Linked DNA regions of Homo sapiens. The protein of the gene in region 1 purifies or fractionates together with the protein of each later gene. This does not show direct contact. Each region holds a gene or a part of one and is shown in the gene's direction. Other genes may lie near its edges. The genes, in order: SPPL2B, MTCH1, PIGN, P2RX4, OSBPL8, IGSF3 and GLG1.

Region 1 (3,500 bases):
CCCCTCTTTCTCATTCTTCCTGGGCCTGTGCCTCCGTCCCCGTCTTTCTCATTCTCCCTGGGCCTGTGCCTCCGTCCCCCTCTTTCTCATTCTCCCTGGGCCCGTGCCTCCATCCCCGTCTTTCTCATTCTCCCTGGGTCCGTGCCTCCGTCCCTGTCTTTCTCATTCTCCCTGGGCCTGTGCCTCCGTCCCCGTCTTTCTCATTCTCCTTTGGCCTGTGTCCACATCCTGGTCTTTCTCATTCTCCCTGGGCCTGTGCCTCCGTCCCCGTCTTTCTCATTTTCCCTGGCTTCCATTGTTCTGTTCTTTTCTTTTCCTTTTCTTTCCTGTTTTCCTCTTTTTGTCTTTTTCTTCTTTGCCTTGTCTTCTACTGTTTCTTTTGTTATGAACGTATTTACGCAAAGTGCTGTTATCTGTTGACCCACATTGTTTTGAAAAATGTCCCCCACCGCAGCTGGCCCTAAGGAAAGAAGCTGTGGTGCTTTCTGGTTCCTGGGCACAGGGCCAGGCCAGGCCTCCTCTGCCGAGCCACGCCCCCGACCCTGCCCTCCACGTGGCTCCCTAAACGGCCACTCCCAGGGCCAGGAGAGTTCAGGCCGGCCTGTCCCCTCACACCTGCCTCCTGCAGCTGCAGGTGCCCCTGGCTTTCCCCTCGCCCGATTTTACTGTCTTCATGATTATCCTTTAAAATCACGGCTGAGGCCGGGTACGGGGGCTCATGTCTGTGATCCCAGCTTTCTGGGAGGCTGAAGTGGGAGGATTGCTTGAGTCCAGGAGTTCAAGACCAGCCTGGGCAACATAGTAAGACCCTGTCTCTGCAGAAGAATGCAAAAATTAGCCGGGCATGGTGACATGTGCCTGTAGCCCCAGCTACTCTGCAGGCTGAGGTGGGAGGATCGCTTGAGCCTGGGAGTTCAAGGCTGCAGTGAGCCATGATCGTGCCACCGCACTCCAGCCTAGGCAACAGAGTGAGACCCTGTCTCGAAAAAATAATAATAAAATGAAAGAAAAAATAAAAACACAGCTGCAGAGATTTGTCTCTCCTGAAACATAACTTGTCAAGTTGTCCCTGTAATTCCTGAGACTGAAGCCGCTGAGGCTTTATAGGTGCCAGCCCTCCCTGTTTGTGTCTGTCTGCGTCTGTTGATGATGGCTGATGGACACGTGGATGGCCTAAAATGGACCAATAGGGACGCTCCCCGTGGCATGGCGTCAGAAATACAGAGATGGGTGTTAGAAAAAGTGCCGGGAGCAGTGTGCTTGCTGGACACAGCGGCTCTTTTTTTAAGAGTGTTCTAGCAAATAATTAATTTTCTCAGAGCTTTATTTTGAAATAATTTCAAATGACAGTTGCAGGATCGCTACAGAGAACTCCCGTGTGCCCCGTTCTCAGAGGGACTGGTCATTTCTTCACATTCGCTTGATTCCGTTCTCTCTCCCTCCACACACACTTACGCGCTCTCATTCACCTGATTCCGTTCTCTCTCCACACACACGCGCTCTCATTCGCCTGATTCCGTTCTCTCCCTCCACACACACACTCACGCGCTCTCATTCGCTTGATGCCGTTCTCTCTCCACACACACTCACGCACTCTCATTCGCCTGATTCCGTTCTCCTTCTCTCCACACACACTCACGCGCTCTCATTCGCCTGATTCCGTTCTCTCTCCACACACACACACTCTCATTCGCCTGATTCCGTTCTCTCTCTCCACACACGCGCTCTCATTCGCCTGATTCCGTTCTCTCTCTCCACACACACACACTCTCATTCGCCTGATTCCGTTCTCTCTCCACACACACTCACGCACTCTTATTCGCCTGATTCCGTTCTCTCCCTCCACACACACACTCACGCGCTCTCATTCGCTTGATGCCGTTCTCTCTCCACACACACTCACGCACTCTCATTCGCCTGATTCCGTTCTCTCCCTCCACACACACACTCACGCGCTCTCATTCGCTTGATGCCGTTCTCTCTCCACACACACTCACGCACTCTCATTCGCCTGATTCCGTTCTCCTTCTCTCCACACACACTCACGCGCTCTCATTCGCCTGATTCCGTTCTCTCTCCACACACACACACTCTCATTCGCCTGATTCCGTTCTCTCTCTCCACACACACGCGCTCTCATTCGCCTGATTCCGTTCTCTCTCCACACACACACACTCTCATTCGCCTGATTCCGTTCTCTCTCCACACACACTCACGCACTCTTATTCGCCTGATTCCGTTCTCTCCCTCCACACACACACTCGCGCTCTCATTCGCTTGATGCGGTTCTCTCTCCACACACACACTCACGCGCTCTCATTTGCCTGATTCCGTTCTCTCCCTCCACACACAGACTCACGCGCTCTCATTCGCTTGATTCCATTCTCTCCCTCCACACACACTCATGCGCTGTCATTCGCTTGATTCCGTTCTCTCTCCACACACACTCACGCTCTCATTCGCTTGATTCCGTTCTCTCTCCACACACACTCGCGCTCTCATTCGCTTGATTCCGTTCTCTCTCCACACACACACACTCTCATTCGCCTGATTCCGTTCTCTCTCCACACACACTCACGCACTCTTATTCGCCTGATTCCGTTCTCTCCCTCCACACACACACTCGCGCTCTCATTCGCTTGATGCGGTTCTCTCTCCACACACACACTCACGCGCTCTCATTTGCCTGATTCCGTTCTCTCCCTCCACACACAGACTCACGCGCTCTCATTCGCTTGATTCCATTCTCTCCCTCCACACACACTCATGCGCTGTCATTCGCTTGATTCCGTTCTCTCTCCACACACACTCACGCTCTCATTCGCTTGATTCCGTTCTCTCTCCCTCCACACACACTCACGTTCTCATTCGCGTGATTCCGTTCTCTCTCCACACAGACTCATGCACTCTCATTCGCCTGATTCCATTCTCTCTCTCCACACACACTCACACGCTGTCATTCGCTTGATTCCGTTCTCTCTCCACACACACTCACGCTCTCATTCGCTTGATTCCGTTCTCTCTCCACACACACTCACGCTCTCATTCGCTTGATTCCGTTCTCTCTCTCCACACACACTCACGCGCTCTCATTCGCTTGATTCCGTTCTCTCCCTCCACACACACTCGTGTTCTCATTCGCTTGATTCCATTCTCTCCCTCCACACACACTCACGCGCTGTCATTCGCTTGATTCCATTCTCTCTCTCCACACACACTCACGCGCTCTCATTCGCTTGATTCTGTTCTCTCTCTCCACACACACTCACGCGCTGTCATTCGCTTGATTCCGTTCTCTCTCCACACACACTCACGCTCTCATTCGCTTGATTCCGTTCTCTCTCTCTCCACACACACTCACGCGCTCTCATTCGCTTGATTCCGTTCTCTCCCTCCACACACACTCGCGTTCTCATTCGCTTGATTCCATTCTCTCCCTCCACACACACTCGCGTTCTCATTCGCTTGATTCCATTCTCTCCCTCCACACACACTCACGC
Region 2 (3,500 bases), on another chromosome or scaffold:
GACACCCCAGGGGGGCTGGGAAACGACCAGAATCCAGGTTCCCAGGTTGGTTGGAACAAGGACTTGTCCTTCTTTCCGTGTGCTGCTGATGCCCAGGGTCTGGGACAAACTCAAGGATTCTGGGATTCTCAGCATCAGGCCGGGAGGGTGAGAGAGGACCTCTCATTATCCCTGGAGTCATCTTTGTCTAAGGGGAGAACGGCCTCAAGAGGCGAGATTCCAGATTAGTACCCAGACCTGGGAGGAATTAATGGAATGCTTGTCCCTGGGCGCCTTAGAAACAGACCCCAGCTTATCTAAGGCTGCTCCGAGGCAGTGACCCAACTAGGGCTCAGGAAGTCAGAAGATAGACCAGCTAATAGTGATCACCTCTTGACCTTTGTGTCACGTCTTTTGCTTTTTAAAACCCTTTTGTGAACGTTATGGCCTTTGATCTGACGGCATCCTAGTTGTGAAGGGAACAGGGCAGGTATAATGTTCGTTTACCAATACAGAAATCGAGACCCAGAGATCACAAATTCTGGAGAGGCTCTGGGCTCTCCAGAGTCACTCAGCTGGAACTGACAGGGCTGGAATTAGATCCCTGGCCAGGCCAAGGGTGCATTCCTCTGAGTTTTTTCAGATCTGCTAGGAAGTGTACAGTCCGATACACCCTCCTATTTTGTTAGCTGTGGTCTACACAGCCTAGTATACATAGACCTTTCAGCAGGTCGGGTCAGGCATAGGAAGGCCTGGTCCTTCTACACAGCACTTGTTGAGGAAGGCCATCCAGGTACCTGAGGGGTTGACTGGTTCTGCCTGAACCAAGATAAGAGGTAGGGAGCAGCGATGGCTGGGAATTGCAGTGTCCAGACATTCTCACAGTGGGGATCACCTTCAAGAAGGATGGCATTCCTTCTTGAAGTGGCTTTCCCTCCCAGGAGGCTAGGAGGGCCTGGGGACGTGTCTGCCAGAATCACCTGGGTGGGAAGGGGGTCATGTTCAGCATGTGTGTGTGTGTGGTACATGTCTGTTCTGTGTGGTGAGGAGTGCCCCATCCCAGATGGGAGCCTCTGCTTGCAGGGAGACTGGCCACTTGACCTGGGCAGGTGAGTCTTCACTGGCCTTTCGATGTAAGCAAATTAAAGTGGCTCCATAGAGACCCACCCCATCTGCAATCACAGTGGTACATTCCTGCAGTTCTGCCCCTTCTCGGGGGGCCTTGTGGGTGGGTAAGCTGCTGCTGTCACATACAGAGCAAGGGTGGCCAGGAGTGCACCGCTAAGTGGTTTCTCATCTAGGTGGGCAGCTGTCTGACCAGAGGCTGCCGTGCTTACATCAGCAACAACAGCAGTCAACAGATTTGTCTAAAGTGTTTTTCGAGTGCTTTTCTGTATGTGGCTTAAAGGCCGAGGTGAGGCTGCCGGGCTGTCAAAGCCACTCAAGCAGACATCTGAGCAAATCTCTGACCAAGAACCCAGGCCATCGATCTGGTGGGATGGCCGCTCCACAGGAAGCTGAGGGTGGGGGAGTCACCTTTCCTCACTAGGAGCTGTTTGCTTCAGCAAAGCAGGATTTGAGGAGTTGGGGTCTGAAGGGGGAAAAGCTTGCTGAGGTGGAGGTGGCGATAAGCCTGGACTTGCCCTCACCTCACCCCACAGGCCAGGATTCGTCTTTGGGTTTCAGGGTGCATGTCTGTCTTAGCACTGACTGCGTGCCAAGCCCTGGATGTTGATCAGGCAGACACGGGCTCAGCCCTTGAGGCTCACAGTCCGGTGGGTTGCACAGGCAGCGGCAGCTGATCCCTCTTACCGGGTCTCCTTCTCGGGACTCCCTTCAGTCCACTTACCCCGTTTCTGCCCCCCAGGCCTTCTCTGGGCAGTGACTGTGAGGGCTGACAGGAAAGGCATGTGCAGCGTGCTTGTGAGGAGCTCAGCACAGAGGGTGGGGTGAGGGCATGTGTTGCTGAAGTCTGCATCCTGAGGTGCCTGTGGCAAACCACTCTTCCCTTCTGTCTCCTCAGTTCAGCCAGGCCCTGGCCATCCGGAGCTATACCAAGTTCGTGATGGGGGTAAGTTGTGCCAGCTGTCCTTCCTTCCCACTGCCTTGCGGACCCAAGCGGGGCCTAGGAGGCCAACCCTGGTAATGGCTGGAGGCAGGTCTTGGTACAGGGTGTTGGCGTGGTGTGTCCCTGCTCCCTGGGCCGGGGTGGGTCACTGGCACTCAGGCCTCTCTGGGTTTCAGATTGCAGTGAGCATGCTGACCTACCCCTTCCTGCTAGTTGGCGACCTCATGGCTGTGAACAACTGCGGGTAGGTGTGCGCCCCTCTACTTGCCACTCTACCTACCAAGGCTGTGGGGTGGGGGAGACCCACCGAGCCCTTCCAGCACTCTGCCCCCTCCCACCTGCTCTGTGTGTAGGCTTGGCCTGCCAGGCACCCTGGCTTCCGCTGGGATTTCCCAGCACCCCCTGGGGTAAACTGTGGTGTCAGGGGTCAGGGTGTGGATGGGTGGTAGCCTGAAGGCATTCCTTCTTGAAGTGGCTTTCCCGTGGCTGGCTGTCTTCCACTGTTCTCTGCATCTACACTCTCCTTCTCCGGCAGGCTGCAAGCTGGGCTCCCCCCTTACTCCCCAGTGTTCAAATCCTGGATTCACTGCTGGAAGTACCTGAGTGTGCAGGTGAGCAAGCACTGGACGGCGGAGGCCTTTCCTGTTCTTTGCTACATCCTTCAGCTGAAATGGTTTTGTGGATGCTTCATTGCATGCAAAGATAAGTGGTTTCATGGAATTCAATATTGTGAGGAGATACTTGGTATCTATAAGGCATTTAAGTTTTCATCTTACATAATTTCAGAAAGGATTTGAGGTGGCTAAGTGTGGGTTTATTTTAAGATTATACATCAGACAAGACCTTTTCTTCTTTGAGTCTTAAAGACTCTTAGGATAAGGATAAGAGAACTCTGGCCCAGGTGGCAGGTGGTAAAGCCCAAGAACTGCTTCTCCTTCAAGTAACATGGGCTGAAAATTCGAGGTCTGTAACCAGTTGAGCTGAGTTCCTGGGTTGTTAGGGCGGCTGGCATTGGAAACCGACTCCTCCCTCCTGCAGGACATTCCTGGGCCCAGGAGAGCCTGTGGGTGGGGCTGGGCCACGTGGGGAACTGGCAGCAGTACCAACCTTGGGTTCTCGTGTTCTGTACCGAAGCTACCTCTCCGTAGCTGGAGCTCTTGGGCCCAGCAGTCAGGGGTCCAGGCTTTGGCCGAGGGCAGAACCTTGCCTTTTCCTGGCCTTGATTTGCCTCGCAGTGAAATGGGGCAGTGGCCCGGAGGGAGCCAGAACTCTGAGTGGCCTCGAGGCTGAGAAGAGGACAGATGGGAGGGAAGCAGGGAGGAGAGCCGCAGTTCTTCCCAGTGGCCCTGGTCAGCGTGAGTGTGTCTCGTCCTCCCTATGAGCACTGAAAGAGTCCTAGACCACTTGGGCTCTGAAGCAAGAGGGGCAATGAGCCTCCTCTCTAGGGCTCTCC
Region 3 (3,500 bases), on another chromosome or scaffold:
CAGTGTTGACCTATCCTCTGAGCCATTTTGTTGGGTACCTGTTAGCCTTTACCCTGGGAATTGAAGTATTAGTAAGTAACTTACCAGATTACAACATTTGCAAATTTCTTTTATATATTTGTAACTAGTATTAAATGACCTTATTTTTCATTCCTTCTTTGGAATGCATTACTAGGTTCTCAGTTTTTTCTACCGCTATATGCTTACCGCTGGACTTACTGCCTTTGCAGCTTGGCCATTTCTCACTCGGCTGTGGACTCGAGCAAAGGTATGAGTACTCATTTTGACATAGGACAGATTAGTAACTACTTTGTTTTGACACATGTGTAACTCAAGGAACTGTTTATTTTTAAAGAAAAGGGTAGAATGTGTTCTTACATAAAAGAGCCTAGTCATATTGATAGGAGGACTGACATTACCTGTAAGGTTTCAGTAATTCACTTAGACTTTCACATCAAAATGGGCCAGTTATGTGGTAATTGAAATGCTATATAAGTTGTACTGATATGTCCATCTCTGAAGCATTTCCTGGATTTGTTTAGCTTCAAATATCTTGATAATGGACCAGGCAAGGAGTCGTCCAGAGCAGCACAGCCCAGTGGCTTAGGGGTCTGCACTCTGTGAGTCACAGGAAACACCTCCCTCGTTACCCTGAGCCACTCAGTTTTTTTTTTTTCTGGATAAGTATGTATTTATTATAGATTATTAAAAATATAGTCAGTCTTGATTTTCTTCCTTCAGCTACATAGGGAATTACAATGTGCTTCTACAAAGAATGCACTTATATTTCCACTTTGATACTTTTTGATAGAAGTAGCAGGAAGATATCTTCTTTCTACTCTGAGAATTTATTAAAAAATCTTCAATGAATGGGATTATCGATCTTTTAATTTGTGAGGGATCTTAATCTAATTACAAAAGTAGTTTTACTTATTTTCCTTCTGGGCTCAGTTGTTTGGTGATTATTGTAGGCCACCTTTTTTATAGATGTCTTCATCAATATATGGTCTAACCTAAATTGAATGAAGCACTTTATGCAGGTTTAAATACTGGTTATTTTATTTACTTGTCATGGACCTGGTACTACTTATATTTTAACTTCTCTGAGCTCTGTTTCATCATCTGATGTATTGGGAATGATAATACCTGCCTCTTGAGGTTATTGTGAGAATTAAATGAGAAAGTGCTCATATTATACCTAATACTATACCTGCTATGCAACAGGTCCTTCACAAATAGTAACTATTACTTTTTAAAGTAGTTAGCTGTTGATTCTGCTAGAAAGTATTTGAAAAATAAAATAATAAACAGCTGTAAGGCTTTGCATTTTCCTTTTACCTTCACAGTCATATAGTCTGTGAAACACTAATGATAGTTTTCTATACCATATTTGTCTAAAGATAACTTTTTTCTTGATTTTAGATGACCTCACTGAGTTGGACTTTCTTCTCTTTGCTCCTGGCAGTGTTCCCACTGATGCCGGTTGTAGGTCGAAAGCCAGACATCTCTCTAGTGTATGAATAATATTGTATTTTATTCTATTTTCAATACACTTTTTTTTCCTCAATTAACACTGTAAAATTTGAACCTAATCTTGGTCAAGAATATAAAATCATGTGAACTAACGGGAATTTAAAATACCAATATCAAACCATTAGTCATGATTTTGGCCTAGGTTCTAAGAGTCATTAAACCTCCTAGTAGGTGCTTTCGGGCTTTCATAATGAAATTGTGCCACTGATAACTTAAAATCCCGCCCATTTTTTTTTGTTTAAGTCTAGAAGGTTTTCTTTCTTTTATGCTTGGAGGAATCAGTAAAAGTTTTAGTTTCATGTGAAAAAACATTCTGTTGCCAAAACAAAAATGTCTCAAAGCTACTGTGTTAGCCCTCTTTGCTTTAATCATGTCCACACTAAAATGTCATGTAAAAATTAAATTTTCTGCTATTCTAAATTGAATGTAAAGATCTCCATGGGAGGAAACTCTATTCACCTTGCCAGCTTTCCCATGTTTAACCACTCAAATTGTTTGAAAATTCTTCTGCATATCTTACCTAAATTCCTTACTGTGCTGCTATATTTATTTCTCTTCAATAGACCTAAATAAATTTATAAAATAACTGGTTACCTTTGCTTTTAACTGCACTTTATTGTCAAGTAAATTATGGGCTGTTTGAGTGTGCATATGATCATTATTTCATTTAACATTTCCTCTCTTATTGTCTAATCATGGGAATTAGAAATTAAATCATCTTTGTTACTTTCTTCAGAATGCTATAAGCATTTTTTAAAACATTCTAACCAAGTCTGTAATGGATAATGGTATATATTTTTAAATCAAGGAAGATTAACTAAATACTATTTTGTAAAAATATGTGCTGATTTATGAGATTCTATACATTTTCTCCTATTTGTATGAGAATACCAATATGCAATAGACCAGGAAATATCCCAGGAAGTCACTTTATTAGCAGAGCTCAAAATAATTGTATTGAATTCTAACACCATACTATCTAAGCCATACTTTATTAGAGTGTTACTAGGTAAAAACATTTTGCAACTGTCATAACCTATAAATAGTATATGACAAAATGAATTCCAATATTTTCATTTATTTCTTGCTTCAGATAGCTCTGTAAGCTCTTGTATTGTTTCTATAAAGCCCCTTTCCTTCCCTTTGTCAGTCTCTGCCTATCAGTCCTGCTCAAGCAGTATTGCCATAGTTGAGCAGAATTTATCATATGCTAAAAGGGAAGGAAATTGTATAAATTTGCCACTTGCGTATTCTACTAAAGATGAATGTGGGAAGCAAATAAACTTGTTAAAATATGAGAAATCTAATTTATATTTTAGAAAATTATATTGTTTCCCTCTAAATTTAAATTGCTCAGTGACTTTAAGTTTATCCTACTAGCTATATTTGCAACTTATTTATTTTGATTCCTGGTTCATGGGGAAATTTCTACTCTCCTTTTCATCTGTCACAGCATCTCCCTTCTTCAGAAAATCACAAAGATGTGATTTTGTGAAACATTTAAGGATACAATTAAAGGAAAAAGCAAACGTGTACAACATGGTTGTGATGTCTGTTACTCCAGTGTTCTAAAGTAAAAACATATTTGCCAATAAGTTTAGATACCAAATTATTTTAAAAATTAAGAAAGAGAAAAAAAGCAAAGAATCTTGATCATATGTGACTATTTTTTCCTAAATTTTAATGATAATCCATGTTGAATATATGATTACCTTTCTCCTTAGGATTCTCAAAGAGTGTATTTGAAGCATCACAACCAACCATCAAGCATTTTTCTGGGGATTCCTGCTTTGCATTCTTCTTAGGTGTCCAGCTCTGCTTTTTGCTCTTTCTTTTTTCTCTTCAACCAATTCCTTTTCTCTTAGTTCTATTTGGGTTCTGGATTTCATCCTCAGCATAATTCTGGCTGTGCTATGTTATTCAGATGTTAAGGAGGTGAGAAAGAGCTCAACAATAGGGCACCATTT
Region 4 (3,500 bases), on another chromosome or scaffold:
TGATTTATAATTTCAGTTAGGAAAGAAAACCAGCCAGATTTGAGCCCCATGAGGCCTCATGTTTTTATTCCTCTGAGATAATCTGGTTGGCAGGGAATGTTTTTAGCACTTGTTGGCTCTTTCCCTCAGTAAGTCAAGTTTGATTGAGAAACCATTGTTTCAGTTTGCAGACCCCCCCCTTTTTTTAACTGCAGTCAAATTCACTTATAGAAACTAACCATTTTAAGTCGGGCACAGTGGCTCATGCTTGTAATCCCAGCACTTTGGGAGGCTGAGGCAGGTAGATCACTTGAGGCCAGGAGTTGGAGACCAGCCTAGCCAACATGGTGAAATCCTATCTCTACTAAAGATACAAAAATTAGCCAGGTGTGGTGATGTACACCTGTAGTCCCAGCTACTCAGGAGGGTGAGGCTGGAGAATCGCTTGAACCCAGGAGGCGGAGATTGCAGTAAGCCAAGATCGTGCCACTGCCCTGCAGCCTGGGCGACAGAGCAAGGCTCTGTCTCAAATAAATAAATAAATAAGAAAGAAATTAACCATTTTAAAATGAAAAATTCAGCACATTTAGTGCATTCACAGTGTTATGCAAGCATCACCTCTATCTAGTTCAAAACATTTCCATCACCCCAAAGGGAAGCCTCGTATGTTACACAACCACTCCCCATTCCCCACTTCTCTCACTCCCTGGCAACCCGTAAGTGCTTTGTCTCTATGGACTTGACTGTTCTGGAAATTTCACATCAATGTAATGGTATCCTGTGTGGCCTTTGTGTCTGGCTTCTTTCACTCAGCATCATGTTTTTGGGGTTCATCCATGTTGTAGCCTGTATCAGTGCTTTATTCCTTTATTTTATTTTTTGAGATGAAATCTCACTCTGTCACCCAGGCTGGAGTGCACTGGCGTGATCTCGGCTCACTGCAACCTCCACCTCCCAGGTTCCAGTGATTCTCCTGGCTCAGCCCCCTGAGTAGCTGGGATTACAGGTGCCCGCCACCACACCCGGCTCCTTTTGTGTGTGCGTGTGTCTGTGTGTGTTTGTGTGTGTGTGTGTGTGTGTGTGTGTGTGTTTTTAGTACAAAGTTTCACCATGTTGGCCAGGCTAATCTGGAATTCTTGACCTCAGGTGATCCTCCTGCCTCAGCCTCCCAAAGTGCTGGAATTACAGGTGTGAGCCACCATGCCTGGACCCTTCATTCCTTTTTATTCATGGCTGAATCACATTCCATCATGTGACTAGACTAGGACAGACATTTGGGCTGTTTCCACCATTTTTTTTTTTTTTTTGAGACAGAGTCTCGTGTCATCCAGGCTGGAGTGCAGTGGCGCGATGTCGGCTCGCTGCAACCTCCGACTCCCGGGTTCAAGCAATTCTCCTGCCTCAGCCTCCCAAGTAGCTGGGACTACAGGTGCCCGCCATCACACCCGGCTAATTTTTGTATTTTTAGTAGAGACGGGGGTTTCACTGTGTTGACCAGGCTGGTCTTGAACTCCTGACCTCGTGATCCGCCCGCCTCAGCCTCCCAAAGTGCTGGGATTACAGGCTTGAGCCACCGCGCCCGACCTGTTTCCACCTTTTGGCTCTTGTGAAAAGTGTTGCTCTGAATATTTATGTACAAGGACTTGTTTGAGTCACTGTTTTCCATTGGGTTATAAACTTTGATGGGAGAGAGCGGGAGAGCACGCGGTCAGTGTTTGAGTTGTCCTCTTCAGTCAGCGTCTGCCTTTCTTGGCTCTCCGTGAGTCCTCTGAGCGTGGCTTGCCCGTGCTGTCTCCCCTCTGCAGGAGGAAAACTCCCTCTTCGTCATGACCAACGTGATCCTCACCATGAACCAGACACAGGGCCTGTGCCCCGAGGTAGGAGGCCCCCGGGAAGAGCCCCAGGCCCCACACCCCTCTCCACGCCTGTCCACCTGTGTGTGGGGCCGGGCCACGTGGACTTTCTTTTCGCTCCTTCTTTTTCCAGATTCCAGATGCGACCACTGTGTGTAAATCAGATGCCAGCTGTACTGCCGGCTCTGCCGGCACCCACAGCAACGGTACGAGCTTGTGGCCTCCTGGGGAGGGCGGCCCCTGAGCAGATCGCCCCCACTGTGGAGCGTCTCTGATAGAGAAATCTTCCCAATTCCTTCACATGACCCTGGGTGAGCCAGGTGCCGAGGCTGGGGTCCTGGAGCCCCTCTACATTCACTGCTGTCATTGGAGCCCCACAAGCCATCCCAGCTCTTGCCCTACTGTTTTTTTTTTTGTTGTTGTTGTTGTTTTTTCTTGTTTTTTTTTTTGTTTTGTTTTTTTGTTTTTTTGAGCCAGAGTCTCGCTCTGTCACCCAAACTGGAGTGCAATGGCATGATCTCGGCTCACTGCAACCTCCACCTCCCAGTTTCAAACAATTCTCCTGCCTCAGCCTCCCGAGTAGCTGGGATTACAGGCATGCACCACCACGCCCAGCTAATTTTTGTACTTTTGGTAGAGATGGGTTTTACCATGTTGGCCAGGCTGGTCTCGAACTCCTGACCTCAGGTGATCCACCCGCCTCAGCCTCCCAAAGTGCTAGGATTACAGGCATGACCCACTGTGCCTGGCCTCTTGTCCCATTCTTTAGCTTGGCATCACCCTGGCTGAGATGTGGCTGGCACACAGGTAACTGTCTTCCTCCGATTCTAACTCCTGGACAGTGACACTGTCTAAATCCCAGATTTGCACAGCTCAAGACTGGCTGCATGGGAGGCTGGATGGGGCTCTCACTCCCTACTCCAAAAAGGTAGAAAATAGGAGACCCCTGTGGACATGGGACCCCCCTGCCACCCTTGTGCTTGTAGGAGTCTCAACAGGCAGGTGCGTAGCTTTCAACGGGTCTGTCAAGACGTGTGAGGTGGCGGCCTGGTGCCCGGTGGAGGATGACACACACGTGCCACAGTGAGTCCAGCCCTAGGGAAGGAAGTGCCTTTTTGTTTTGTTTTGTTTTAGACACAGTTTCACTCTGTATCCCAGGTTGGAGTGCAGTGGTGCGATCTTGGCTCACCACAACCTCCACCTCCCGTGTTCAAGTGATTTTCTGTGCCTCAGCCTCCCGAGTAGCTGAGATTATAGGCACCCACCACCACGCCCAACTAATTTTTTGTATTTTTAGTAGAGACGGGGTTTTGCCATGTTGGCCACGCTGGTCTCCAACTCCTGACCTCAAGTGATCCACCTGCCTTGGCCTCCCAAAGTGCTAGGATTACAGGCGGGAGCCACCACACCCAGCCAGAAGCCACCACACCCAGCCGGAAGCACCTTCAACTCTGCGTGTCAGCCTTGAACAGAGGTGGTCAAGGAGTTACACCTGTGTGTTGTGGCTTTTTGTGTGTTTCTGGTGTCTGTATGAAGTCAGGCTGCCCTAGGATGGCTGCTCTCAACCACAAGGCAGCGACCATCAGTGGCAAGATGGGCCACAAGTAGTCTGTCACTCACGAGAAGGGTGCAGGTGACTGACTTCCTTGTATGTTAGGACTCTGTCAG
Region 5 (3,500 bases), on another chromosome or scaffold:
TGTCAGGTACTTGAATATTTTACATGAAATCATTTATTTAATTCTCATACCTATAAGGAGGATACAGTTTCTTCCCATTGTACACATAAAGAGATTGAACCCTGTTTTTCTAGCATGGAGCCATGATTGAAACCCAGGCAGTCTGATTCCATGTCCCACTATATACTGGTTTTAGGAACTGGCCCATAAATTGTAAAGCTATTTGAAAATGCAGATTATTACGGTATTTGTTAAAGTCATATTAAATTTTTTTTCTGTTTTCGTTTTGAATCTACATCTTTACTTTCTAATGTTATGCTTTTTGGAAATTTATTTCATTTTTTGACCTAATAACTTTAAAGAACCCTTTGAAAACAACTTAAAAATTATGCTTTTGTATCAAAATTATACTTTAAATTCAGTACTTAGTTTTCTTTCCAGATTCGTGTCTACCTAAGTTTAGCATTGGTGATACTAATTAGTGTTGGTATTGTATACTTCTAAAACAAACAACCCTAGCCAACAACAACGACAGAATTTCTTTTTCTTTCATGTTTCTGGAAAAATAAAATCAGCTTATATAGTTGGTGTTTAAAAACAGGTGTATGTCATTGGTTATAAAGTGGAGATTTATTTTTCCCTAGACCCAGTTAAAGTTCATTTCTCTTTTTTTAAATTATAATTCTATTTCCACATGCTTTCTTTAGCCTTCTAGAAATTTAGTATTTCTTATCTCATTAGTTGTATCCATGGGATGGACATTGTTAAAATTTGGTTTAATATGGTAAACTTTAGGTTCTCTTTAGTATGTAAGCAGTATGTAGAGATAATATTTAAGTGATAATTCATTTGTTCAGTTTTCTGCTAAGGAGATATATTTGTTAGAAAATTTTTCTTAATACTTAACATTTGCATTCTCAAGAATGATGAAATTAAAGCTCATTTGCCTTTAGATTATAATCCATACCTGATTTAGATTATTACAGATAATATTGGATAGTGTAAAGATGAGATCTCATAATAATTACTCTATACCATTTATTTTGTTTATTTTGTTATTAAGGGTCCAAAAGGTGAAGCGGTTGGATCCATTACTCAACCCTTACCTAGCAGTTATTTGATCATCCGAGCTACTTCAGAGTCAGATGGTAAGTATAGTTTTTGATGGATTGGATTTTGGTCTTCATTTTTAAGAGTTTTTTTAATGCCACTTTGTATTATTCTGGGGAAATATATTTTTAGTATGGCATTTGCAGCAGAAGCATGGTAATCATAAATTGTTTTGAATGCTAAATATATGAGTAACTTAATAGACAAAAATCTGATAGAAAGGAAGCATTGTGTGATTTACTGAAGAGTTAGCAGTTCAGAGTTTTCTTCTTCATCCTCCATGGACATATTAACACCTTTTTATTTGTTAGTGGTCTTTATGGTACTCTTAAAGATATATTTAATACTTTTTATATTTTACTACTAAATGTTACCATTTATGAGACATATACATTGTTTTGGTTTTGTTTTTTTTTATGTAAGAGATTCGAGTACAACCTTTTTTATTCCTCCTTTAACACTTAATTCATGAAGCAAATATGGAGAGAGAAAAACTTAAATGATATCAAGGTAACTTTAAAATCTTAATAATTAATAATGGATTTTGTCCTCACTTTCATGCTTTCATGTTTCATAGTTTAGACAAGGTTGGTATAGGGAATCTTCTAACCTTCCAAAGTTTACTTTTATCTGATTTTTTTTGTTTTGTTTTGTTTTTGTTTTTGAGATGGAGTCTCGCTCTGTTGCCAGCCTGGAGTGCAGTGGCACGATCTCGGCTCACTGCAACCTCTGACTCCCTGGTATAAGTGATTCTCCTGCCTCAGCCTCCCGGGTAGCTGGGATTACAGGCACATGCCACCACGCCCAGCTAATTTTTGTATTTTTAGTAGAGACGGTTTCACCATGTTGGCCAGGATGGTCTCACACTCTTGCCCTCATGATTCGCTTGCCTCGGCCTCCCAAAGTGCTGGGGTTACAGGCGTGAGCCATCGCACCTGGCCTCAGATTTTTTTTTTTTTTTTTTTTTTTTTTGAAACGGAGTCTCACTCTGTCGCCCAGGCTGGAGTGCAGTGATGCGATCTCGGCTCACTGCAAGCTCCGTCTCCCGGGTTCACGCCATTCTCCTGCCTCAGTCTCCCGAGTGGCTGGGACTACAGGCGCCTGCCACCACACCCGGCTAATTTTTGTGTATTTTCAGTAGAGACAGGGTTTCACTGTGTTAGCCAGGATGGTCTCGATCTCCTGACCTCGTGATCCGCCTGCCTCGGCCTCCCAAAGTGCTGGGATTACGGGCGTGAGCCACCGCGCCTGGCCGATGATTTTTTTAAATTAAAATATAGGTATGAGCTTTCAATATGAAGATGCTTTACTTGGCTGATATTCCCAGCAAATCTTGAAGTGATATATATGAAAATTAAGAGCCCTAAACAAATATAAATGAAAAGTTTTCTGCTAATTCACTTTTAAATTTTTACTTAAAAAATAAAACTATTAATGTTTCTCTTAACTAATATGGCAGTTAATGGTAGCATTATGCAGGCATTTTCCTGACTTAAAAAGTTTCATACATACAAGTAGAATGGTTGTTAATCTTGAGGATAGACCTCCTATTAACAAAAACAGTTACTTCAGATAGTTTGTTTGTAGTAGAATCATAAATCCTCAAGTGTATTTTATGTACCTTGCTTGATACCTTCAAATTATACTGCATGTTAATGTTCTAAGATTTGAAAAATAAAGTATGTTTATTTTAGATTGGGTATAGTTTCTAATGCATGCTGTATACTATTCATTTATCAGTGGTGTGCTTAGTATGTGAAAAGCATTTGAAAAACGGAAAGATTTCATTAAATTCTAGCAAGATGTTATGTTCAGATTAACTTTTCCAGTGCATGTTTCTCAAAGAAATAGTGGTAACAGGGTAAGTTAAGATGCATGCTAGTTTCATAGTTTTAAAAATTATAGTGCTTATGAATCTGTGTTCTTTTAGGAAGGTGCTGGATGGATGCTTTGGAGTTGGCTTTGAAATGTTCTAGTCTTCTTAAACGTACAATGATCAGAGAAGGAAAGGAACATGACCTGAGCGTTTCATCAGATAGCACACATGTGACTTTCTATGGCTTACTACGTGCTAACAATCTCCACAGTGGTGATAACTTCCAGTAAGTAGATACTGCCGCTGAGTTGGTAATGTTTCAGAGACCATACTGTTCACAAAATTAGTTGGCAGGCCTAGAATTTTAGTAGTGTATCTAGGACTGAAATTTGCATATCTTCCCATTATATGGCCTAGGAACCGGCTTAAAATTTGTTTAGCTGCTATAATCAGGTGTAGAAATGTATTTCCTTGATTCCAGCCAACGTGATTTACTTTATCTTTCCCAAATATAGCCATGCTAATTATTCACCTTGTCTGTGCATGATGTCCCTTCTATTAAGAATGATTTCTGCCTACTCCTCCTTACGCTTTT
Region 6 (4,184 bases), on another chromosome or scaffold:
AGTCCCAGTGACTCAGGAGGCTGAGGCAGGAGAATCACTTGAACCCGGGAGGTGGAGGTTGCAGTGAGACAAGATTACACCACTGCATTCCAGCCTGGGTCACAGAGTGAGAACCTGTCTCTTAAAATAAAATGAAAAATAAAACGTATATCTGATAACCATAGTCCCTTACTCAACACCTTCAGTGGCTTCCCAATGGTCCCAACCCCTTAACACACCATACAATGCCCTCTAGGTTCTGGCACTCGATTTCTTCTCAGCTCATTTCTTGTCACTTCTCTCCTACAGTCAAGTTTGGGCCCAGCAGACTGTCCTGGTCCTCTAACTGGGCTCCTTTCTGGGCCTGCAGAGGTGCTGTTTCTTCAGTCTGCGATTCCTTACCTCCCCTCTGTCTCTTCCTCTGCTGCTGCCTTCTGTTCTTTGGCATTCAACCGAGTTTTCCTTTCCTCTGAGAAGCCTGGGACCTACCCCGACCAAAGCTCCCTCCTCCTTGCCCCTCCCCCAATAACACAGGGTTGGGGTCTCTGCATTTGCTTCCTCAACACTGTACTTTTCTTGTCATGTCTATTTTATGGTCTGTGTCCCCACTAGACTGCAAGTTGCATGAGGGCAGGGCGGTCTATTCTGCTTTGGTCGCCTCGTGACGGTGTCTACCCAGCAAGTTGTGTGTGTTGGGTAAGTAGTGAGAAAACGAAAAAGCACTTGCTTTACAGGGCGGTTGGTCATAAAATAATAATAGCTTATATTTACTGACCACTTGTGATGTATCAGGCACCATTCTAAATGCTTTACAAGTATGTCACAGATTTCTCCCATAACCCTCTTAAGTAAGGGTTATTTCCTCCACATAGCAGATGGGGAAATTGAGGCACAGAGAGGTTAAGTAACTTGCCAAGGGCCACAGCGAGGAAGTGGAGGAACCGGCGTTAGAACCCAGGCTGTTTCCAGAGTCCAAATTCTATCCAAGAGTGAAGTGCAATATGGGGTTCCACTTCGTGAACAGATTCAAGTCTCCAAAGGGCTTTGTTTTTGTTTCCAGGAGGAAGGACGAGCTTCTGTGCCGCCGGCTTCCCAGGTTATGGGTGGCCAGCTGGGCTTTGGGAAGGGCCTGTACATCTCGCCGGCGGCCCCGGAGTCTGGGTGTGAAGCCCTGATTAACTTGCCGGGCTGCTCGGCCCACACGCCAGCCCTGCCCAGGTCCTCCGGTGCCCCGGGCCACCCTCATGCCCCCGCCAGGCCCGGGGCCGGGACTCGCGTCTCCAGGGGCGGGGCCGGGGGCGGGGCCGGGCCTCTCTTCGAGGCCGCCGCCCTGGCCCCGCGCTCGCCTCGCCGAGTGCGGCGGGCCGGGCTGGAGCTGGAGGGGCGGGGACTCGGGAGGGGCCGCAGCGCGGCTGCTGGTGCCGTTGCGGGAGAAGAGGAAGCGGCGCGTCCCCTGAGGCGTGCGCCTGGATGGACTGAAGGACGGTCCGACGCGCGCGGAGGGAGAGGGCCAGGGGCGAGGTCAGGCTCGGCGGGGGCGCGGGCGGCGCCCGGAGGGGGCCCCGGGGAGGGAGGCGGGGAGGCGTGGAGCGGGGAGCGGGGAGCGGGGAGTGGGGAGCGGGCCCGCGCCGGCTGAGCTCCGGGTCGGGCCCGAGACCCCTCCCCTGGCTGGGCGGGCGCGCTGCGAGCGCGCTCCGGCAGCTGAAAGCGGAGCTCCGGACTCCCTTCTTCCCCGGTTTCTTTTCTTTCCAATCAGCGAGATATAAACACCCTGCAAGGTAAAACAATAGCGGGGCCACCTGGGACGCGTCGCGCGCAGAGCTCCCACGGTTGGGGCGGGGGCCGGGAGTCGCGGCCCCACCGCGGAGCCCCTTCCCGATTTGCCCTGGCGGAGGGTGGGGCTACCTGCGGCGCCCGGGCTCGGTAGGAGGTGACGGGAATTCCCAGGAGTGAAGCATTTGGTGGAAGTATTTCAGGAACAATCGGGCTTCCCACTGTTGCCCTGCTCTGGGCAGGGAAACTGAGGCGGAGGGAAAGACAGAGACTTGCCCAAGGTCAGAATGCAGAGGTTGACTGTCCTGGTCCAGGAACCGGACCCAGGTGTCCGGACCAGCTCAGCGCTCAGCCCCAGTGGGTTTTGCAGCTTTGCCTTTGATAAAAATCTCTGTTGTGTTTGTTTTAGAAATCTGCTCGCGCTGGGGTACCGCTTCAGGGCTGCCGAACGCCAACTTGCTTCGTGTGCCCTAGGCAGGCGTGGGGCAGGTGGCGCCTCCGTGACCTACCACCATGGATGGAAACGGACTTTTTGGTGAAGAAACCCAAACGGTTGATGCCAGGCAGGGTGATTTGGCCGTCAAAGGTTTTGACGAAACCTGCCCTGTTCTCTCTGGGGAATCCGAATGAGGGAGATCACAGACACCTTCACTGAGAAGCCAAGGACATTTCTGTATAATCAGTGGATGAAAGGATTTTCTCAGACCCTTTTTTCCGTGCTTCTGGAGGATTAATCCACTACAGTCTGCAATTTCAGTGGAAACTGCAAGGCACACGATGTGGCAGGAGCCGGGAGCGACTTCCGAATTGTTGTGGACCCTTCCTGTAGCATAGGGGAGTTTTCACACTTGCCTCCACTCCTCCCCTTCCCCCCAACTCCCTCCTTCTGATCTCTTCTTTTTAATCTGTTCCCATTTTCCGAGTTAAGTTCTATTTCCAAAACTGTTCTCTGGAGCTATAAGTGGATTGCCAGAAATGAGAGATTAGGAGCTGGGAGAAGAGGAAGCGCCTTGTGTTGTGTCTCCTGGAGGCTGCCGACATGAAGTGCTTTTTCCCGGTGCTGAGCTGTCTGGCTGTGCTGGGTAAGTGGCTCTGCTTATCAGTGCAATCGATGTGAAAGTTTAACCTGCTCTTGGTTCCTGTAATTTCTCGTGGTTCTTTTTCATCAACACTAGGATTTGGGGGACACCAGGAGGCGGTCGGTGTGTGTCACAGGTTGGAGTAGAGTACGAAGAGGCCCGTTTCTAACCCAAGAGCAACGGTGGAATATCATTTGTTATCTATAAGAAGGAACATTTGCTGTTCTTAAAGTGTCTGTCTTGGCCCCTGGGGTGAGGTCCTGCATCTGCACATCTGTGGTTTAGGGACTTCACATGGCTGGTGGGCTGCTGTCTTGTAGCATGTCAAACATGGATGCTCTGGTGTTTTCACTTCTTTGTTGGGCTGCATTGATTCCTAATTGGGAGTGGGAACATCATTCCCCTCTGTCTCGAAAGTTGGTTTGGGTGATAATGATGGTGCCTTTTTTGAGGTGGAAATGGGAGTAAGTGGGATGGGGGTTGAAGGGATGCTTTGCCTACCTGAGTGGTCTGAAGGCTAAAAATGTGAGGGCACTAGTCCTGTGTCTCCTCACCAAGGAAGCTTAGATCGTAGTTCTGGGAGAAGGAGAGCCTGAAGAAAAGGAAGCTGCCTGGTAGGGGAGATTTTAGGATTGGCTTTTGTGCTCCCACAAATCAGAATGCCTAGAGTGGGAAGAAGAAACTATGGCCCTGAGAGGTGAACCTTTGACACCCCTCTTAAGGTGCAGATGCAGGACCTTCACCCCAGTGAAGAGGCCCCTCTGCTCAACAATTGCCTATTCTTTTTATGCCATTGAGCACTGTCTTCAGCGTGCTGTCTTAGAACACATCTCAGGTCTAGGATAAACTTCATTGCCAGGATTTGGTGCCATTCTCTTTCCCCATCTCAGACCTCATACATGAGCACACCCCCTGCCCTCTCTGTAAGGCTCGGTCCTCTGCATTCAGAAGGGATTATGATTGTTGCCTACAGGGTTCACGTCTCCAAATCTAGGTGTCTTGCACGTAGGGAACTTAGGGTGATCTGTTGGCAGTGGAGATTGCTTCCATGCATTGTCTACACCCTTGCAGTAGGTAACAGGTGTGTGGGAAGAGAATGGACTTTAGAATTAGAGGACCTGAGTTCCTATCCCAGCTTCACCATGATTGACATCTGAATGTCAATAAAACAGAAACAATAAAACAAGGGAAGGTGTGATAACTAAAGGATATAAGGTGTCCTAAATGCCTTGACTGCCTTAAATAATGTCTGAAACTCATAATAGATTTGTGCAATCAGTGGTTCTCAAACTCTCGTGTGCATGTTGGAATCACTGGGGAAGCTTTTAAAAATTCTGATTTCAGGCAACAACC
Region 7 (3,500 bases), on another chromosome or scaffold:
GACTGCAGACATGCGCTACCACACCCGGCTAATTTTTGTATTTTTAGTAAAACGGGGGTTTCGCCACACTGGCCAGGCTGGTCTTGAACCTCTGACCTCAAGTGATCTGCCTGTCTTGGCCTCCCAAAGTGCTAGGATTACAGGTGTAAACCAGTGCACCCGGCCTCTTTTCTTAAGCAAGGACTGTCTACTTTAGCTTTGTCCTTGTTCTTTTTTTTCTTTGAAAGTCTTACTCTATCTCCCAGGCTGGCTGGAGTGCAGTGGCATGATCATGGCTCACTGCAACCTCAAACTCCTGGGCTCAAGCTCTCCTCCCACTTCAGCCTCCCGAGTAGCTGGGACTATAGGTACACAACACCACTTAGCCTTGTTCTAAGCGGAAATATACGTGAACTCATGAATTTGATGTGGTAGGTATACTTCTCTAATATATATGAAACTAAATATATGACTATAAAATATAAGTACCAACACATACCACCTGAAATCATCTTGCATATTACCAATAGCACATGCTTCAGAAAGCACTAACACTGGATTATCTTTCTCTGTTGTTTTTTTGTTTTGTTTTGCTTTTGGTTAAGACGGAGTCTCGCACTGTCACCCAGGCTGGAGTGCAGTGGCGCGATCTCACCTCACTGCAACCTTTGTCTCCTGTATTCAAGCGATTCTCCTGGCTCCACCTCTCTAGTAGCAGGGATTACAGGCACCAGCCACCATGCCTGGCTAATTTTTTTTTTGTTTTTTTTTTGAGACAGAGTCTAGCTCTGTCACCCAGGCTGGAGTGCAGTGGCGCGATCTCGGCTCACTGCAAGCTCTACCTCCCGGGTTCACGCCATTCTCCTGCCTCAGCCTCCCGAGTAGCTGGGACTACAGGCGCCCACCACCATGCCCGGCTAATTTTTTGCATTTTTAGTAGAGACGGGGTTTCACCATGTTGGCCAGGATGGTCTCGATCTCCTGACCTCGTGATCTGCCCACCTCGGCCTCCGAAAGTGCTGAGATGACAGGCGTGAGCCACTGTGTCCGGCCGAGGCTTGGCTAATTTTTGTATTTTTAGTAGAGACGGGTTTTCACCATGTTGGCCAGGCTGGTCTTGAACTCCTGACCTCAGGTAATCCCACCCGCCTTGGCCTCCCAAAGTGGTGGGATTACAGGCGTGAGCCACCGCTCCTGGCCTTGGATTATCTCTTAAGATTCTTCCAGCTCCGGTGCTTTGTGATTTTGTGATCTGTGGGAATACAAAACGTGTGCAAGAGAGTCGTAGCACAGGTGGAAAGGGGAGATGCTTTGGGGAATTATTAAAGGGGCTGTATTGACCGAAATAGAGAACTTGAAAATGTTTTCAGTCCAGGTCATGAAGGGTCGTATATTCACCTCTAGCTGGTTCTCCAAGTAAAGTCCAGAAATGGGATGTTTTTATCCCTACCTCAGATAAAAATATTACAGCAGATAATTGAGAATTACCTGTAAAGTAGCATTGTCGTTTATGGCAAATACTTTTTAAGAAATCTCTTGATGAGAATGCTTTACAGTATATAGTTGCTTAATAATTCATTGTTCTGTAGAAGGAAATAAAATACTTGAACAGTCCAAAAGATGAAATGCTGTATTTCTCTTTTGTGCATTTCTCCTAATGTGTTCAAAACAAATTTACTCAGGAACAATAACAAAAATCTCCTCTTTATATAAGTTATATATATATATATTTATATATTTGTTGTTGTTGTTTTGAGGTGGAGTTTCGCTCTTGCTCAGGCTGGAGTGAAGTGGAATGATCTCGACTCACTGCAACCTCCACCTCTCGGGTTCAAGCCATTCTCCTGCCTCAGCCTCCCGAGTAGCTGGGATTATAGGCACTTGCCAGCACACCCGGCTAATTTTTGTAGAGACGAGGTTTCACCATGTTGACCAGGGTGGTCTCAAACTCCTGACCTCAGGCAATCCACCCACCTCAGTCTCCCAAAGTGTTGGGATTACAGACGTGAGCCACCGCGCCCGGCCTTATTTATATATTTTTAAAAGCAGCAGTTAAAATGGCTTATAGGCTATCATGTAAATTAATTTTTCTTCTTTCTTTTTTCTTTTTTTTTTTGAGATGGAGTCTCATTCTGTCACCAAGCTAGAGTGCAGTGGCGCGATCTCGGCTCACTGCAACCTCCACCTCCTGGGTTCAAGTGATTCTCCTTCCTCAGCCTCCCGAGTAGCTGGGACTACAGGCGCCCGCCACCACGCCCGGCTAATTTTTTGTATTTTTAGTAGAGACGGGGTTTCACCATGTTGGCCAGGATGGTCTTGATCTCTTGACCTCGTGATCCGCCCGCCTTGGCCTCCCAAAGTGCTGGGATTACAGGCGTGAGCCACCGCGCCCGACCAATTTTTCTTCTTTCAGCAAACATTTATTGAAACCTGTGTGCAAGACACTGCTCAGTGTTCAAGTATACTACTGCTACTTATAATGGTTAGCATTTACTGAGGGTTTTCTGTGTGCCCTGTTCTGAGGGACTGGATGCTTTCTAGGCGTTATCTCATTTAATCTTATGAGAGATGTTTTATTATTATCATTCTTATTGATTTTGTTTGTTTGATTTTGTTTTCGAGACAGAGTCTTGCTCTTGACGCCCAGGCTGGAGTGCAGTGGTGTGATCTCAGCTCACTGTAATCTCTGGCTCCCGGGTTCAAGCGATTCTCCTGCCTCAGCCTCATGAGTAGCTAGGACTACAGGTACACACCACCATGTCCAGCTTTTTTTTTTTTTTTTTTGAGGCAGTCTCACTTTGTCACCCAGGCTGGAGTGCAGTGGTGCGATCTCAGCTCACTGCAAGCTCCACCTCCCGGGTTCACGCCATTCTCCTGCTTCAGCCTCCCGAGTAGCTGGGACTACAGGCGCCCGCCACCATGCCCGGCTAATTTTTTGTATTTTTTAGTAGAGATGGGATTTCACTGTGTTAGTCAGGATGGTCTCAATCTCCTGACCTCGTTATCCGCCAGCTTCGGCCTCCCAAAGTGTTGGGATTACAGGCGTGAGCCACTGCGCCCGGCTAATTTTTGTTTTTTTAGTAGAGGCAGGATTTCGCCATGTTGGCTATGCTGGTCTTGAACTCCTGACCTCAGGTGATCTGCTTGCACCACCATCTATCACCGGAGCTTTTTTTTTCTTTTTTCTTTCTTTTTTTTTTTTTTTGAGATGGAGTCTCACTCTGTCATCCAGGCTGGAGGGCAGTGGCATGATGTCAGCTCACTGCAACCTCAGCCTCCCTGGTTCAAGCGATTCTCCTGCCTCAGCCTCCTGAGTAGCTGGGACTATAGGCGCACCCCACCACGCCCAGGTAATTTTTGTATTTTTACTAGAGACGGGGTTTCGCCATGTTGGACATGCTGGTCTTGATCTCTTGACCTGGTGATCCTCCCGCCTCGGCCTCCCAAAGTGCTGGGATTACAGGCGTGAGCCACTGTGCCTGGTGAGTTTTGTTTTGGGTTTTTTTTTTGTTTGTTTGAGA

Evidence for each region.
Region 2: the proteins of SPPL2B (region 1) and MTCH1 purify together in Homo sapiens (co-immunoprecipitation; 3 studies listed by BioGRID and IntAct, with this or other methods). This does not show direct contact.
Region 3: the proteins of SPPL2B (region 1) and PIGN purify together in Homo sapiens (co-immunoprecipitation; 3 studies listed by BioGRID and IntAct, with this or other methods). This does not show direct contact.
Region 4: the proteins of SPPL2B (region 1) and P2RX4 purify together in Homo sapiens (co-immunoprecipitation; 3 studies listed by BioGRID and IntAct, with this or other methods). This does not show direct contact.
Region 5: the proteins of SPPL2B (region 1) and OSBPL8 purify together in Homo sapiens (co-immunoprecipitation; 3 studies listed by BioGRID and IntAct, with this or other methods). This does not show direct contact.
Region 6: the proteins of SPPL2B (region 1) and IGSF3 purify together in Homo sapiens (co-immunoprecipitation; 3 studies listed by BioGRID and IntAct, with this or other methods). This does not show direct contact.
Region 7: the proteins of SPPL2B (region 1) and GLG1 purify together in Homo sapiens (co-immunoprecipitation; 3 studies listed by BioGRID and IntAct, with this or other methods). This does not show direct contact.

What each region holds. Positions count from the first base shown.
Region 1 is NC_000019.10:2,345,684-2,349,183, forward strand, and holds part of SPPL2B (signal peptide peptidase-like 2B isoform 2 precursor), read left to right. Parts: intron 1-3,500. UniProt on the Homo sapiens protein: Intramembrane-cleaving aspartic protease (I-CLiP) that cleaves type II membrane signal peptides in the hydrophobic plane of the membrane. Functions in ITM2B and TNF processing.
Region 2 is NC_000006.12:36,969,197-36,972,696, reverse strand, and holds part of MTCH1 (mitochondrial carrier homolog 1), read left to right. Parts: coding exon 1-45; intron 46-2,002; coding exon 2,003-2,050; intron 2,051-2,223; coding exon 2,224-2,291; intron 2,292-2,582; coding exon 2,583-2,658; coding exon of another isoform or gene 2,659-2,844; exon of another isoform or gene 2,845-3,500.
Region 3 is NC_000018.10:62,103,557-62,107,056, reverse strand, and holds part of PIGN (GPI ethanolamine phosphate transferase 1), read left to right. Parts: coding exon 1-71; intron 72-175; coding exon 176-268; intron 269-1,422; coding exon 1,423-1,514; intron 1,515-3,500.
Region 4 is NC_000012.12:121,220,129-121,223,628, forward strand, and holds part of P2RX4 (P2X purinoceptor 4), read left to right. Parts: intron 1-1,784; coding exon 1,785-1,856; intron 1,857-1,965; coding exon 1,966-2,038; intron 2,039-2,601; exon of another isoform or gene 2,602-2,639; intron 2,640-2,818; coding exon 2,819-2,915; intron 2,916-3,500. UniProt on the Homo sapiens protein: ATP-gated nonselective transmembrane cation channel permeable to potassium, sodium and calcium. CTP, but not GTP or UTP, functions as a weak affinity agonist for P2RX4.
Region 5 is NC_000012.12:76,392,272-76,395,771, reverse strand, and holds part of OSBPL8 (oxysterol-binding protein-related protein 8), read left to right. Parts: intron 1-1,042; coding exon 1,043-1,127; intron 1,128-3,019; coding exon 3,020-3,191; intron 3,192-3,500. UniProt on the Homo sapiens protein: Lipid transporter involved in lipid countertransport between the endoplasmic reticulum and the plasma membrane: specifically exchanges phosphatidylserine with phosphatidylinositol 4-phosphate (PI4P), delivering phosphatidylserine to the plasma membrane in exchange for PI4P, which is degraded by the SAC1/SACM1L phosphatase in the endoplasmic reticulum.
Region 6 is NC_000001.11:116,664,934-116,669,117, reverse strand, and holds the start of IGSF3 (immunoglobulin superfamily member 3 isoform 2 precursor), read left to right. Parts: upstream 1-1,384; 5' UTR 1,385-1,500; intron 1,501-1,649; exon of another isoform or gene 1,650-1,757; intron 1,758-2,161; 5' UTR 2,162-2,791; coding exon 2,792-2,834; intron 2,835-4,184.
Region 7 is NC_000016.10:74,597,115-74,600,614, reverse strand, and holds part of GLG1 (Golgi apparatus protein 1 isoform 3 precursor), read left to right. Parts: intron 1-3,500. UniProt on the Homo sapiens protein: Binds fibroblast growth factor and E-selectin (cell-adhesion lectin on endothelial cells mediating the binding of neutrophils).